Regions from separate parts of the Homo sapiens genome. Here region 2 is linked to region 1. The links come from fine-mapping of genetic effects on gene expression. Tissue or cell type: whole blood. Region 1 holds a variant in brackets; the other region holds the start of a gene. All regions are shown on one strand. Distances are from middle to middle.

Region 1 (8,000 bases):
TGGCCAGGCTAGAATGCAGTAGCATGATCATAGCTCACTGCAGCCTTGACCTTCTGGGTTCAGGTGATCCTGAGTAGTAGCTGGGACTGGAGGTGTGTGCCATCATGCCCAGCTAATTTTTTTTTTTTTTTTTTCGTGGAGACAGGGTCTTGCTGTGTTGCTCAGGCTGGTCTTGAACCACTGGCCTCAAGCAATCTTCCCATTTTGGCCCCTCAAAGTGCTGGGATTACTGTGTCTGCCCGACAGTTAAATGTTTTGAAAGTTGGCCGGGCATGGTGGCGGGTGCCTGTAGTCCCAGCTACTCGGGAGGCTGAGGCAGGAGAATGGCGTGAACCCGGGGGCGGTGGAGCTTGCAGTGAGCTGAGATCACGCCACTGCACTCCAGCCTGGACAACAGAGCGAGACTCTGTCTCAAAAAAAAAAAGAAAAAATGTTTTGAGAATTTCTCTTATAACTGGCTGGCTGTGGTGGCTCACGCCTGTAATCCCAGCACTTTGGGAGGCTGAGGCAGGTGGATCACTTGAAGTCAGGAGTTCAAGACCAGCCTGGCCAACATGGTGAAATTCCGTCTCTACTAAAAATACAAAATTAGCCAGCATGATGGCATGTGCCTGTAATCCCAGCTACTCGGGAGGCTGGGGCAAGAGAATCGCTTGAACCTGGGAGGCAGAGGTTGCAGTGAGCCAAGATTGTGCTACTGCATTCCAGCCTGGGCAACACAGCGAGACTCCCATCTCAAAAAAAAAAAAAAAAAAAAAAAGGAAATATATCTTAAATAGAACTCTGTTTGAATTTGTGCTTATTAATTTTTGTTTTTGTCAGCAATTTAGGGTCCCGGCACGGTGGCTCACACCTGTAGTCCCAGCACTTTGGGAGGCAGAGGTGGGCAGATCACTTGAGGGCAGGAGTTAAGACCAGCCTGGCCAACATGGTGAAACCCTGTCTCTACTAAAAATACAAAAATTAGCCAGGTGTGGTGGTGGGCACCTTTAATCTCAGCTACTCGGGAGGCTGAGGCAGGAGAATTGCTTGAACCCAGGAGTTGGATGTTGCAGCGAGCCGAGATGGCACTGCTGCACTCCATTCTAGGCGACAGAGCAAGACTCTGTCTCAAAAAAAAAAAAAAAAAAAAAAAAACAGTAAATGGTAAATTTAAGCGTTATAAATTCTGAATTAATGGAGAAATTATTGACTAGAAAAGTAGAAAGTTATATCAGAAGGCCAAATTTTGTGTAGTTCATGCTATTGTCACGAGTTGACTATAATTCCATTATTACTGTAATTTTGTCTACAACCACTTATCCTGTGCAGCAACTGCTGTTTGCACTCTGGCTTGGTAAACTCTTTAGTTCAGGGGTCATTATCAGGATGTCACTGGCAGCTTAAGGTATAGGGAACAAATATTAGATAACATTTACTGATCTTCTGCTACATGCCAGGCACTGCAGTAAGTGTGCTATCCATGAGGTCCATTCTCTTCTTATTTGAAGCTGAGGAAACTGAAAGCATGGCTTGCCTGAGGTCACTTCACTTCCCTCTGGTCCTGACTGGAGTCAGGCTGGAGCTCTCCTACCCTATATTCTCTCTCAAAGAAAAGGAGACAGGCTAGTAGAAGACATAGAAAAGGTAAGAGCAAATAGGTAGGGCTTATTCCACTCATTCTGGGCTAACAGCCCTTTAAAGAAAAGTATTTGGCTACAAATTGTAGAAACACAGAGCTCGTGTGCCTATTGGCTATAACAGTTACAACCTTTGGAAGAGGGGTTTCGGTGTCCTTTGCCATTTAGCAAGTAATTGAGCAGGAGAGAAAGCAGATGAGCAGAAAGAAGCAAAGAAGTTGAAATAAGTAGAGTGTGGGCAGGGACTCCGCAGTGTCCTGGAGGAGGCACACCTGTCATTGGTGCCCTGGGAACTCATGTATTAGATATTTCTTGGGATCACAGAGGATGTTGGGGGTGGGGAGGATCAGGGCCATTTTCAGGGAGCTGTTTTAAAGGAAGAATACCTTGGGCCAAGTGGAGAAAGGCACTCCCAGACAGAGGGAACAGCATGGAATTATACTCAGGAAATGACAAGTAATTTTATGTGGTCAAACGTGTTAAGAGTCTGTGTGGAAGGCGTTGAGTGTAGAGGTGAGGCTGGAAGTGTGGGGTCAATGTTTTGGAAGTGGTGGTGACCCATGGAAAGGTTTTAGCATAGGAAAAAAATCATCAGAAAAGTATTTAGAGAGAAGAGTTCTGGGGAAGATCGCCTGTGAAGGGGAAGGGGACCAAAGGTGAGGGCACCCCTGGAAAGACTCTGGTGCGGGGCTCAAGCCACTTCCCCTCAGCTGTGAGCGTGGGAGCTCTCTAGTCTTGAGGCTCCTACCTTTAGAGAATACACACAGGGCCGGCCGGGCGCGGTGGCTCACGCCTATAATCTCAGTACTTTGGGAGGCTGAGGTGGACGGATCACGAGGTCAGGAGATTGAGACCATCCTGGGTAGCATGGCGAGGTGAAACCACGTCTCTACTAAAAATAAAAAAATTAGCCAGGCGTGGTGGTGGGCACCTGTAGTACCAGCTACTGGGAAGGCTGAGGCAGGAGAATCGCTTGAATCCGGGAGGTGGAGGTTCCAGTGAGCCAAGATCGTGCCACTGCACTCCAGCCTGAGCGACAGAGCGAGACTCTGTCTCAAAAAAAAAAAAAAAAAAAAAAAAAAAAAATACACACAGGGCTTCTGCAGACGTGCACAGAGGGATTGGAGGCTTTTGTCATCATCTGAAAGAAGAAAGTGGAGGAAGGTATAATACTCACTTGACACCCATTTTCGGGGGTAGGGATCAGGCTTTGACCCATCTTGCTATAGGGAGGATTGCAGAGGTAGGCTCTGAAGGGCAGGTGCCTCTCCCAGCCCCCACTTTTCTTTTTCTGTTTCCTCAGGCCAAACTGCAGGGGCACGTGGAACCACTGAGGAAGCACCTGGAGGCAGTGCAGAAGATGAAAGCCAAGGAGGAGAGGCGAGTGACAGAACTGAAGGTGGGTGAATGTTCTCGACGGGGCTGATGGGCAGTACAGTCGAGGCAAGGAAGGTAGGGCTTCCCACTCTCACAGGGAGTGACTTGGTCCCCTGAGGAGGGGACAGCTAAGGCCTGGGAGAGGGGTAGATGCTTTCCCTAGGTGCTGAGGAGAGCGGGGCCTTAGAGAATCAGGAGGCATGTTCATTCCTGGTTCCAAAATGGAGTGGAAACTGAGGCCTGGATTGGAGGGCCTAGGTGCCTGGCCCAAGGCTGCAGAACAGGCTTTCTACCCGACACCAGAGCCTGAAGGGGGCAAAGCAAAACCCACATAGCAGCCATCAGAGAAGCTGCCGGCCCCAGGATCCATGCAGGCACTGGGCAGAGCAGCCCTAAGCATGAGGCGGACACTGTCCTGGGACACTTGCTGTGTCCTGAGAGGGGGCCAGTGTGTTTAAGCTGGGGCAGGATTTAGTGTATGTTAGCACTGCAGAGACCTAATATTTCCTAGTCTAGTGTTTTCTCAGCACACCCCGACCCCCCCGCTTTTTTTGTTGTTTTTTTCCATTATTGCTCGCCCTTCTCCAAGGAGTCTTTTAAGATACATTTTCCATCCCCACCTCCCGCCTGTTTTCATAACCCCAGCAGGTCCTGCTGGGATGGGCTGGCACTGTGAGCTTCATAGACCAAGCCAGGACCTCCCCTTCTGTCCCTCTTCCCTCCTCCCTTCCCAGCCAGTGCCTGGGCCTTGCCACTACCCAGGGCCCATGCTCACTGCCACCTGAACGTTAGGGACTCTGCTGCTGGCGACTGCTAGGCACTGAATGGTAGGATCTGTCTGGGAGTAGGAAGTCATCGTGCTTCTGGCCAGCTGCCCAAGTTGATACTTTTGGGCTCTCCTGGGTATAGAGGTAACAGGAGCTGTGTGCCCCTGGCATAGAGTGAAGCTGACTGTGGCGGCTGTTCCCTCACGCGTCTGGTCAGTTGGGACCCTCCTCTGGCCTGCTGCTCACAGCGTCTGCAGCCGATGGTAGCTGTGTGAAAAGTGTGCCTACCACCCAGGAAGGGCCATCCCTGGCAAATAGGGTGGGACTGGGCAGGAGTTTTTTCTGTTACAGGATATTAAGTCCCTACATAATATCCTTGATTTTTGCCTCTTAGCCCACAAAGCATAAAAATACTTACTATCTGGACCTTCACAGAAAAAGTTTTTCCGAGTTCTGATCTGGGGCTTTTGGGTGACTTTCTTAAGGTCACTGTGTTTAATGGCGTCGGGACCCTAACTTCATGTTTTGATTCCTGAATTCTTTTATTTATTCATTTCAAAAATTTTTACCA[G/A]GTGCCTACTCTGATTGGTACTATGTCAGGGTCCGAGGACCCTGGCAAACAAAGACATTCCTAGTCCCTGTCAGTGGGAGCTCATGGTACAGTGGGGGAAAGGATGTTAACAGTTACGTCATTTAAACACAACGTTTCAATATTATATGTGCCACAGAGAGATACAGTGATATTTGTGGGGATGGTCCCGATTTAGATCTGGAGAGGAGGGAAGGCTTGTCTTGGAATATTTAAGGTTGGACCTGAAGGATGAGTCAACTTAGGTAGAGTCAGGTGGAGAGGAGTGTTCCAGGCAGAGGTTAGTGAGTTTGAGACCACTGTGCTGGGAGCAAGGGGGTGGTATCTGGTAAGGCTGGTAGGGGATGAGCCTCTTTCCGGGACTATCTTGGACCTGGGGAGTGTAGGGCTCCTTTGCCTTGCATTGAGAAGTAGTAGTTGCAAAACTGGAGGTTATCTTCGTACGTGTTGAGGTGGTGTCTGCCATCCCCTTTGCACCATTCCAGAGCCAGATGAAGTCAGAGCTGGCAGCGGTGGCCTCGGAGTTTGGGCGACTGACACGGTTTCTGGCTGAAGAGCAGGCAGGGCTGGAACGGCGTCTCAGAGAGATGCATGAAGCCCAGCTGGGGCGTGCGGGAGCCGCGGCTAGTCGCCTTGCAGAACAGGCCGCCCAGCTCAGCCGCCTGCTGGCAGAGGCCCAGGAGCGGAGCCAGCAGGGGGGTCTCCGGCTGCTCCAGGTGAGCAATGTCCCCTCCCTGTTCCCCCAGCATTCTGTGTTGGCTGTCAGGCAGTGCTTACCAAACGCCTGTCCAGAGCTGCCTCTTTTCTCCCTGGGAGGAACCCACAGTGATTGAACCTGAAGACCAAAAACATGTTTTAAAGCTGGAAACAGAGTTAATGTCGAATGTGGTATGTGTGGCGATTATACCCAGTGAAAAGCATGAAGATTCGGTTGTAGGAGAGGTTTAAATGACAGTTGAGGAAAGTCTTTTTGACAGTGACATCCTGAAAAAGGTGAGCAAGTCGTATTGTGGAAATGACAGTATCCCTGGGCTCACAGCAGGATGAGGCGAGTTAGGTATGGCGAGGCATGGGGTGGTTGAAATGGATGTGTGTTCATTGAGGGCCGTGAGGGTGCTGCTTCTCCCTTCCTGCTCAGGTTCAGTCTCTGACTGGAGATCGGGGAACGCTGTCCCTGTGCAGCTGACACTCTCTTTATCTCTTTCTCCCTCTCCCTCTTTTTGTTTCTCTTATTCCCAGGACATCAAGGAGACTTTCAATAGGTGTGTTCCCAGTCTTTGCCCTTCGTGACCCAGTGGCATCTGGTTCCCTGTCCCTGCTTCTCTTCGGTATCCCTCTCCTCTCCTTCCTTCCCCAGGACCTGAGTTTCCATCTCCTGGACCCTCCTCTCCTTCCCCTCAGCTTTTGCTTTTCCCTCTGGGAATATCGTGGTCCCACCCCCTGCCCGGTCCCCTTCCTCCAGGTGTGAAGAGGTACAGCTGCAGCCCCCAGAGGTCTGGTCCCCTGACCCGTGCCAACCCCATAGCCATGACTTCCTGACAGATGCCATCGTGAGGAAAATGAGCCGGATGTTCTGTCAGGCTGCGAGAGGTAGGGAGGTCACCTCCACGACCTTCCTTTGCCTTTCCCTTCACAGACCTGAGACTGGGTCCTGAGGGAAGTTGGGCCCCAGGGAAACTGTGGGGCTTGAGATGGAGCAGGATCCAGGCAGCCACTCTGAGGTTGAGGTTTCAAGCCATGAGCAGGTAGACCTAGTGCAGGCAGGCCTGGAGGGTGGGGTGGGGTGGAGTGGCAGGAAGAGCCAGGCTGGGGGAAGACCTGTCAGGTATCCTAGGAACAAGAGTGAGGAGCAAGATGAGCCTGCAGGAATCTGAGGCTGGCCTCTGGGATGGTGTGGGGAGCTGGATTCAGGGAGAAAGGGGGCCCAATCTGTGGAGTTGGCTGCTGACAGGGGAACAGCCGTTCCAGCCCTGGCGTATTTGTCCTCCCTCCCTCCCAAGTGGACCTGACGCTGGACCCTGACACGGCTCACCCGGCCCTGATGCTGTCCCCTGACCGCCGGGGGGTCCGCCTGGCAGAGCGGCGGCAGGAGGTTGCTGACCATCCCAAGCGCTTCTCGGCCGACTGCTGCGTACTGGGGGCCCAGGGCTTCCGCTCCGGCCGGCACTACTGGGAGGTAGAGGTGGGCGGGCGGCGGGGCTGGGCGGTGGGTGCTGCCCGTGAATCAACCCATCATAAGGAAAAGGTGGGCCCTGGGGGTTCCTCCGTGGGCAGCGGGGATGCCAGCTCCTCGCGCCATCACCATCGCCGCCGCCGGCTCCACCTGCCCCAGCAGCCCCTGCTCCAGCGGGAAGTGTGGTGCGTGGGCACCAACGGCAAACGCTATCAGGCCCAGAGCTCCACAGAACAGACGCTGCTGAGCCCCAGTGAGAAACCAAGGCGCTTTGGTGTGTACCTGGACTATGAAGCTGGGCGCCTGGGCTTCTACAACGCAGAGACTCTAGCCCACGTGCACACCTTCTCGGCTGCCTTCCTGGGCGAGCGTGTCTTTCCTTTCTTCCGGGTGCTCTCCAAGGGCACCCGCATCAAGCTCTGCCCTTGATTATCCTGCCACCCGCAGGGGCCCCTCTGTCAGCACTTGGGGGGTGGGTGGTGGAGGGTGGCCCGTAAGTTTGAGGGCTCAAAGGCTCTTCCCACTGCTTGTTACTGTGTTGCTTCCCACTCCCCCTTGACCCCAGGCCCCTGCTTCTCCCTCTAGGAGCCTAAAGAACCCTCCTGGCCTCCAGCTCAGCCTTCTCTCACCTACTATGTCTGTCCAACAGGTCTGCATGGGTCCCTGATAATGAGAACAGCTGCCTGGTCTTCTCTCCCAGTCTGCCTAGCCCAGCCCTGGGACTGGAATTTGAGTAGGGGATGAGGGGAAATTGTAATTTCATTCCTTAACTTCCTTTTCCCCACCCCTGCTCTTCAACCTCTTTATCAGTTCTGAGGCTGGAGGGTTTGGGCAAGGCAACATCCCCATTCCAATTCCATTTTCTGATGCAGATTTTAGCTGAGGGATTTGGAAGCCATTTGGGGAGGCAGGCTGGGCCAAAGGGTAGAGCTGGGTAATAAATGTCTATTCTCCTGGGGAGGAGGGATTCTAAACTTTCCTTCCGTCCTCAATTTCTACCTCCATAGACCGGCCAGAATTTAGCTTCACTTGAGAGAGATCTGGAATGGTCGCCATGATTGAAACCACGCACCATTACATCATCATTACATTAATTACATCAACATAAATTATTTCTTCCCCCTTCCCTTTTCCAGCACTCAACCAAGGAGCAAAGCTCATCCCACCCCACACCCCTCCCAGGTCTGCTCACTGCCAGGCTCCTCTCCCCTTTGTTCAGTGGAGCTGGCTTTTCTCCCAGCCCCTTTCCATGCCTTTCACTCCATTTGGCAAGCTCTGAGGGGGAGCCTGGGGACGGGTTTGGGTCCCCAGGAGGAGAGCCTTGGGTATAATCTATTTTTCTAGGAGCCTCTTGCCTTGTCACTTGCAGCTTTCGCCCTCTGCTTTGATGGCTGAGGTGAACTCATGTTCTTTGGGAAAAGGGAAGGCGTGCTGTGGAAATAAAATGTTTATTTGCTTCTCTTGTGAGGTCTGTT
Region 2 (8,000 bases), 27 kb before region 1:
TAGGATTAAACTGAGATTGCTTTTTCTTCCTCAAGCACATTTATTTCATCACCCTCAAACTTTTACACTTCACTTTCTTTTTAAAGGCCATCTTTCCTGTTTAGCAGTTATAATGCTAACACATGCTCAAAATACAAAACTTGGGAGATGTAGGAAAGTAGAAAGAAGGAAGAAAAGTCCGATGCCAGTGACCAGAGGTAGCAGCACACCCCCAAGGAACGAAGTGAGAATATGCGGCATGCAAGTGTCATATTCTGTTCTTTCCATTAACAGCATACACCGGATTTTTTACTCGAGTTTTCAGATGCAGACTCATGCCCTGATCTCTTGATTTTTTATGTGAACACACGTTTGGCACTCAATATGTCCCACCAGGAAGTTCCTCTTCCTTAAAACTCCTGGGCGGAGGAAGGGAGTCCTGTGAAGTTGGGAGACCTGGGTTCAAGGTGTCCTACAATGCCCCCACCTTTCCTTCAGCTTCCAGGCAGGCTGCAGTAGCCTGGAGCGCCTTATGGATATTAACTCCCTCAACCCTGACGGCAGCCCAGTGGGGAGGGTGCACTTCCCTTCAAGTCTTACAGGTGAGGAGACAAAAGACAGACACATCACCAGGAAGTGTTAAGCCAGGCTTCTCGGCCAGTTGCCTCACAAGGAGGTAGCACAAGTGAAACAGTATTTGCCAAAATACTCTAAGCCAGGGTTTCCCAACCTTAACACAGTTGACATTTTGGGCCAGATACTTCTTGGTTGTAGGGGGCTGCCCTGTGCCTTGTAGGACATTTAGCCGCCCCTCTGGCCTCTACCACGAAATGCCAATAGCATCCCTATCCCATTGTTGACAACCAAAAATATAGTATCTCCAGACTTTGCCAGATGTCCCCTGGGGTAGGAGCATTTTCAAATAAGAGCATTCCTTCTCCCTTTTGTGTTGCAGCAATAGTTGGGCTCTACCTCTGATGTTTCATTAAGCAGGGTATTGTAAATGAGACAAGTGTCATAAATCCAGAAGTATTTTATTGCTGCAAAGAACAGGTAGAGCTCACACCTGTCATCTCAGCACTTTGGGAGGCTGAGGGGGGCAAAGTCAGGGGAGAAGGTTGCTTGAGCCCACGAGTTCCAGACCAGCCTGGGCAACACAGGAGACTACCCCCAACCCCAGCTCTACAAAAAATAAATTAAAAATTAGCCGGGTGTAGTAGTGCACACCTGTAGTCCCAGCTACTCAGGAGGCTGAAGTGGGGGGATCGCTTGAACGACTCCAGCCTTTGTGACAAAGTGAGACTCTGTCTAAAAGCAAAGCAAAACAAAACAACAACAAAAACGAATGTGGGGGTGGATGGATGGATGTTGGGAGAGGACAGAGGTGGAAGGTGTTAAGCAAGGCCTGGGGACTCCGGTCAGAGACTGTGAAGCTGCCGCCGGTGCCAGGGAAGGCCCTCTGGTTCCTGGATGTCAACCAGTGGGGGAAGAGCTGCATTGGGAGTCATTTCTCCAGTGGAGGAGGGATGAAGGTCTAGAGGGTGAGCTCTTCCTCATGGAGGAAAGTGAGTGATGAGGTAGGAAGGTCTGGGATGCACACTGGGTGCAGGCATAACAGATATAGTTGAGGGTCTGGAAAGGACCCTAGGGTGTCTGAACTCCAGGCTCCTCCTCCACCCCTCCTGACATTGAGGATGGGAGGGTCCTCTAGTTCACCTTCCTTCAATTCCCTGCCTTGACAGGTCCTAGTAGATCCTTTCATTCTTTTTTTTTTTTTTTTTTGAGATGGAGTTTCACTCTCGTTGCCCAGGCTGGAGTGCAGTGGCATGATCTTGGCTGACCGCAACCTCTACCTCCCGGGTTCAAGTGATTCTCCTGCCTCAGCCTCCCGAGTAGCTGGGATTACAGGCATGTGCCACCACGGCAGGCTAATTTTGTATTTTAAGTAGAGATGGGGTTGCTCCATGTTGGTCAGGCTGGTCTGGAATTCCCAACCTCAGGTGATCCGCCCACCTCGACCTCCCAAAGTGCTGGGATTACGGGCGTAAGCCACCGCACCCAGCCAATCCTTTTATTCTTTCAACACCTATTTACTGAGCTAGGAACTGAATTTGCAAGGTAGAAAATGACCGATGGTGATTCATGTTTGCTTATCTTTTTTTTTTTTTTTAAGGTGGAGTCTCGCTCTGTCTCCCAGGCTGGAGTGCAGTGGCGCGATCTCGGCTCACTGCAAGCTCTGCCTCCCGGGTTCACACCATTCTCCTGCCTCAGCCTCCGGAGTAGCTGGGACTACAGGCGCCCGCCACCACGCCCGGCTATTTTGTATTTTTAGTAGAGACAGGGGTTTCACCGTGTTTGCCAGGACGGTCTTGATCTCCTGACCTCGTGATCCGCCCACCTCGGCCTCCCAAAGTGCTGGGATTACAGGCGTGAGCCACCCTGCCAGGCCTCATGTTTGCTTATCTTAACCAAAATGAGCCCTCGTTTCACTTTCCTGTTCTACCCTAAGGAAGATAAAATATCATTCCAACTTGGGGTAGAGGCAGGTGCCAGTACCCAAGACCCTGGGCTGTGCAGCAGGGGCTACTGTAAACCCAAGACCCTAAACTTCCTCCCTCTGCCAGAGCCAGGGAGCAGCTCTGACGCCCTCTAGCCCCTTCTCCGTTAGCCTCGATTTCAAATAAAAACACTGTGAACATGAAATTTTTTTCACTACTGTTTTGTTGACAAAACATGCCATGAGGCTCTTTATTGTATTAATATTCCCACTTATTGAATATCCATGTTTCTCTGCAGAAATAGTAATGTGTTCCATTACAAGATGCTTCCGCAGGCCCTAACTGGTATGTTACGTAATATCAGAGTGACTGAGCGTCCTGATTCGCTGGGACAGCTCCAGTTTAAGCCAGTTGTTTTGCAATAATTATTTTAGCACTGCTTTTCACTTTAAAAAGCTCTGGTTTGTACAACAATTATGTGGACACCCTATATAATATGGACTCTATTATCTTTCTGAAATCGATTCTGCGGTTCCATAGCACACACTCCAACACCACACACACCGAGCCCTGGTGCTGAGTTCTCAGGCCTCTGTAATGTCCCACGGGGGGCCTGCGGGTGCCTGGCTCACCAGCAGCTCCTTGCTCTCCTTCTTTTCCGTGGACCGGAACACCTCACAGTCCTCCAGTTCCTTCTTCAAGACCCTCAGCCTGGACTCCAAGAGCTCCTGTAGATGAAGGGAAACAATGTAAGGTGGGGGTGAGGGGCTTCTGGAAACCCCCACCTCTGCCTTCCTGGAGCCAGCCAGGAGAAAGGGAAGGCCCTGCTCACTGAGGGGGAGGCCGGGTAGAAGTCATCTCTACAGGCTACAGGTTACACTGCGAGGTGACTCTGAAGGTCTCGGGATCTTGCTTCCCCAAAAGCATCTGCTGGACCAGCCAGACTGAAACACAAGCTCCGGCAGCCCTACCCCTAGTCGTCTCCTCTACTCTCCGCCCCCCCACCAGGAAGCCCCGTGGCTGGGAGAGTTGGAGCAGGATGGGCCAGCAAGGAGAGACTGGGGACTGCCGCCCGAGCCTCCCCGCCCCGCCCTCACCCCTGCACACACCCTCGCTGAGGCTCAGCGAGAAAATAGCAAAGAAAGGGCCCCCAGAATCGACAGCGTTGGCACAGTCAGACGGCTCTAGGTGCGCGGCTTAACCCGGGAGCCCCCTCCCTGGACATCTTGGCGAGGTCCTCTCACTCAGTTCCACGAGGTGGGGACTTTGAGCAGAGCCCGCTTCGGGGAAAGAGATAAGAGTGGGGGCAGCGGCTGCGTGGCTGTGCCGGAGACTTCCCGCGGGCAGAGAGCTGCGGAGACGCAGACCAGGCTAGAGGCTCCGAACAGACAGGAAGAACATCGCCAAGTCCGTGGGGGACGTCGCGCAGGCGGCCCAGTATCTGGCCCAGAGGGAAACGCAGTGGGGGTGGGGTGGGGGTATTGGTGATGTTGGGGGTGACAGAGAACCGCGCTCAGCCCGGGAACCAGCGCTGGGCTTCCTGGAATGGAGAAAGAAGGGAGGGGCTCACCCGGGCCTCCTGATCGACAGGCTGTTCTCTGCACCCCGTGCGCGGGAGCGCGGGACCAAGTCAGGGGGTCCCGGGGACCCACGGGGTGGGTGGGGGCTGCGCTCACCTTGGCCTCCTGCACCGCCTCGTCCAGCGGCAGCACGGCGTGCTCGCGGTGCTCGCGGGCGCGGTCGCACACCACGCAGATGGCGCGTCCGTCGTCCTGGCAGTAGAGCTTGAAGGGTTCGCCATGCTGCCCGCAGCGGGCAGCCGCTGCCCGGGCCGCGGCCGCCTGAGACCCGTGCTCTCCCGGGGCAGCCGCGGGCAGGCTGAAGCGCCGCAGGAGCGTGGCCACTGCCGCCAGCTGCCGGTTGGGCCGCAGCTGACTGGGGCGCGCGGGCTCGCGGCACTGCGGACAGGGCAGTGGGAAGGGGGGCGCGCGGGTGGCGGCCCCAACAGACCCCGCGCCCGGGCGCTCCCAGCAGCGCCCTATGCAGGCGCGGCAGAAGCTGTGGCCGCACTCGACGGACACCGGCTCACGAAAGAGCTCTAGGCAGATGGAGCACGTCGCCTCGCCCTGCAGCTCTGCCGCCAGCGCTAGAGCCTCGGCGCCGGTTCCGGGGCCGGTCCGCGGTCCCACAGCCGCCATGCGCGCTCTCCGCGCACCCAGATCTGGTCGCGCCTGGGCGGCCACTGGACCTCACAGGACGCGGAGCTGGGCGCCGAGGGCCCACTGGGAGAGGAAGGGCGGGGCTGCCACTGGGCAGGCAGAGACTCGAGCCCGGGGCGCGCCCGGCTGGGAGCCGGGAGGGGAGGCGCACGTTGACTACGGGCCATTCAAGTGCGGGACAGCGCCCTGCGCCCCGGATCTGCGCTCCACCAGCCCCCGCCCTGGCCAGCGGCCTCTCCCCCTCGCCCCCGTCCCTCAGACTCTCCAGGCCGCCCCAGCCTGACCCAGTCAGCCGCGGGAAACGGGCCGCGACAGGTGGGCGCACAAATGCTGCCAGCGCCACTCCCGGTTTCCGACCGAGGCCGACCCAGCATCGCCGGGGCAAGGGCCTGGCGCTCGGGCCACGGTGTCAGGTTCCGCCAGCGCAGGTTCGCCCCGGCCCTGTGCTGAGTTAAATTTAGAGACTGGAACCTGGTCCTGTCCCCTCACGCGCAAGCGTGGCCTTGTATCCATTCCATTACCTTTTCTGCGACTGTCCTCCGGCTTCTTTACTCTTTACTTAGTATTTGAACAGATAACACATTTATAATTTCCCATTGTATTCAGTATTATTCCCCCCCCACCGCACACACACACACACACACACACACACACACAAACCTCAGCGCTCTCTTGTCCCCCAGCTGTCTCCACAGCCCCGCAGCAGAGCTGCCTGTGTTATCCGCTTCCACACCCTCTCTCCTCGCTCACTCTGGAGGCCACTTGGATCAAGCTTTCGCCCGCACCCTCCTCAGAAACCGCCCTTGCCAATGTCACCGGGAACTTCAGCAATTCTCACCCAAAGGCGAAGACCTCGCCTCACCTCATCTGCCCCCGGATGCTCCCTCCTTCCCGACTTCCCTTCTCAGGGCCTTCCAGGACCCAGTGTCCCCGATCTTCTTGCTGTTCCTGAACCCCGTGGCCTCTGCGCTGGCTGTTCCCCTTGCGTGGACCTCTTTTCTCCCACCACCTGCATGCTCCCTCCCACCTCATTCAGGTCTTGTTTCAAACGTCTCTGCCCACGAAGCCCGCCCCGAACGCGCACACTGTGTAAAGTCGTCTCTTAGCGCGCTCCCTTCTCAGGGCCGGCTCTGTGCCCGCACTCTATCTCCTCTGGAATGTCAGCTTTCAGATGGACTGTACTAGGTTTGTTCACGGCTGAATCCTGTTTTTAGAGCAGTTCTTGGCAAGCTCAGTAAGGTTTTCTTGGATTAAACTTGGTTCGAAATTCAAAAGAGGAGCCGCAGTTCACGGTGGAAAGTAGGCCCATCGCCTGTGTCCCAGTCCTTTCTTCCTCCCGAGCAATCAACTTTACAATTCTGGATTACGTTAATCAAATATTCCGTATTTTATTGCCTCAACCCCCACTTTTAAAAAACAAAACGTAGCATCCTGCACAATTTTCCTTTCTTCTCTTTTTCAGGTCACAGTTCATTTTTGGCATCGTGCCTGATGATTGTCTCTCCTTTTTCCACAGCTGCTCCCAGGTGCTTAGCCGGGCCTAATCCTCTCTCTTGGAATCCCTTGGTCAAGACCCGCTGGTTTGGAGTCAGCGGAGGACGCTGGAACAACTCTTGCCCTGCGATGCCGGGTTTTTGCAGCGGCTGAGACCCAGCGCGTACCGGTTGCCTTCCACTCCCGGTGTCCTGAGTTAAGCGACCAATAGGGACCATCTGGGAGAGCTGCTGAGAGTAGGTGGGGATGTAGCTCAGTGGTAGAGCGCATGCTTTGCATGTATGAGGCCCCGGGTTCGATCCCCGGCATCTCCAGTGTAGTTTTGCACATTCAATTATTGTTTTCGATTTTCCTTTCAAATTTTGAAATCCAGCATGTTTGAAGAGCTCCAAGAAAAAACCCAGAGGGTGGAGTCTGCGGAGTAGAAAAAGACCGCGGCGGCCCCTGCCCTCCTCTGGGCCCCATTGTCTTTCCCTCCTGTTTTAAAATCCACACGGTACTTGACCGGGTGAGGTAGCTCACGTCTGTAATCCCAGCACTTTGGGAGGCCGAGGCGGGTGGATCACGAGGTCAGGAGTTTGAGGCCAGCCTGACTAACATGGAGAAGCCCCGTCTCTACTAAAAATACAAAAATTAGCCGGGAGTGGTGGCACACGCCTGTAATCCCAGCTACTCAGGAGGCTGAGGCAGGAGAAGTGCTTGAATCCAGGAGGCAGAGGTTGCAGTGAACCGAGATTGCGCCACGACACTCCAGCCTGGGCGACAGAGCCGCAGTTCGTGGTGAAAGGTAGGCCCATTTTTTGAGAGTCTTCTCTGTCAAAAAAAAAAAAAAAAAAAAAATCCACACGGTGAGAGCTCCAGTGGCGTCAGGGTGCACGTTTCTCCATCTCCGTGCCGTGAGCTTCATCGCGGGTAGAAAATGGCTTGGTCGCTGGTAGGGTAGAAGGGGCAGGAAACGGACGTAAGTGGGAGGGACGGTCAGGCACTGACGGCAGAGTTTGAATTTCCCAGGAGCCGAGGCACTTTAGTAGTTTTATCACACTCCAAATAAATCCAAGTTCAAACCCGCAGTTGAATACACTCCGACTCTGATCTAGAATGAAAAATTGTTGAGATACGGTCATCGGGCGCCCGGCTAGCTCAGTCGGTAGAGCATGAGACTCTTAATCTCAGGGTCGTGGGTTCGAGCCCCACGTTGGGCGGCAACTGGTCGTTTTAGTCCTAAATCTACGACTACTAGCCATACCTAAAAATATATTATAAGTAGACCAGCTCTTAGGAAAATAATCTGCTCTGAAGTCTTGCATTTCTGTGTGTGTAATACTCTTGCGGGCGCTCCACTGTTCATTATCTACCCATTATCTTGCGATACAATTAGGATTTAAAGCTGTGGTAAAATATGCCCAACAAAATTTAACACTTTTTAACTGTACAGTTCTGTAGCATTAAATACATTTAAATGGTTGTGCATCAGTCTCCAGTCCTTTTTCCTGTTTCCCAGATGAAACTCTGAACCCATTCAGCATTAACTCTCCATTCCCCTCTGCCCACAGACGCTGGCAACCACCATTCTACTTTCTGTGTCTTTGAATTTGACTCCTCTAGATACCTCATATAAGATGAATCGTGCAATATTTCCTTTTTAAATTGTCTTATTTCACTTAATGTCTTCAAGATTCATCCTTATATTTCCTTTTTAAATTGTCTTATTTCACTTAATGTCTTCAAGATTCATCCTTATTGTAGCATGTGTCAAAATTTCCTTCCTTTTAAAGCTGATTAGCATTCCATTGCACATATATACCACATT

The links. PIP is the estimated chance that this variant, and not a neighbour inherited with it, causes the effect.
Region 2: TRIM7 starts here. The variant in region 1 is fine-mapped to the expression of TRIM7 in whole blood (TOPMed, PIP above 0.99).

Annotation. Positions count from the first base shown.
Region 1 is chr5:181,227,822-181,235,821 of GRCh38, forward strand. TRIM41 (tripartite motif containing 41) reads left to right here. Exons shown (of 6, transcript NM_033549.5): 2 at 2,923-3,018; 3 at 4,838-5,068; 4 at 5,592-5,614; 5 at 5,815-5,942; 6 at 6,353-7,987. The coding sequence ends at 6,954. Among named protein-coding and RNA genes, the nearest start is that of TRIM41, 8.5 kb to the left of the region's middle. The variant G/A (reference allele first, on the strand shown) is at 4,335.
Region 2 is chr5:181,200,436-181,208,435 of GRCh38, forward strand. It overlaps TRIM7 (tripartite motif containing 7), which reads right to left and starts at 4,761. Exons shown (of 7, transcript NM_203293.3): 1 at 4,154-4,761; 2 at 3,110-3,205. The coding sequence starts at 4,675. TRIM7-AS1 (TRIM7 antisense RNA 1) reads left to right here. Exons shown (of 2, transcript XR_001743050.3): 1 at 1-581; 2 at 2,153-2,682. It overlaps TRA-TGC3-1 (tRNA-Ala (anticodon TGC) 3-1), which reads left to right and starts at 6,433; the gene lies at 6,433-6,504. It overlaps TRK-CTT2-2 (tRNA-Lys (anticodon CTT) 2-2), which reads left to right and starts at 7,320; the gene lies at 7,320-7,392. RefSeq lists silencers at 1,914-2,208, 4,020-4,089, 4,130-4,459, 4,720-5,039, 6,344-6,443 and enhancers at 7,144-7,203, 7,584-7,673.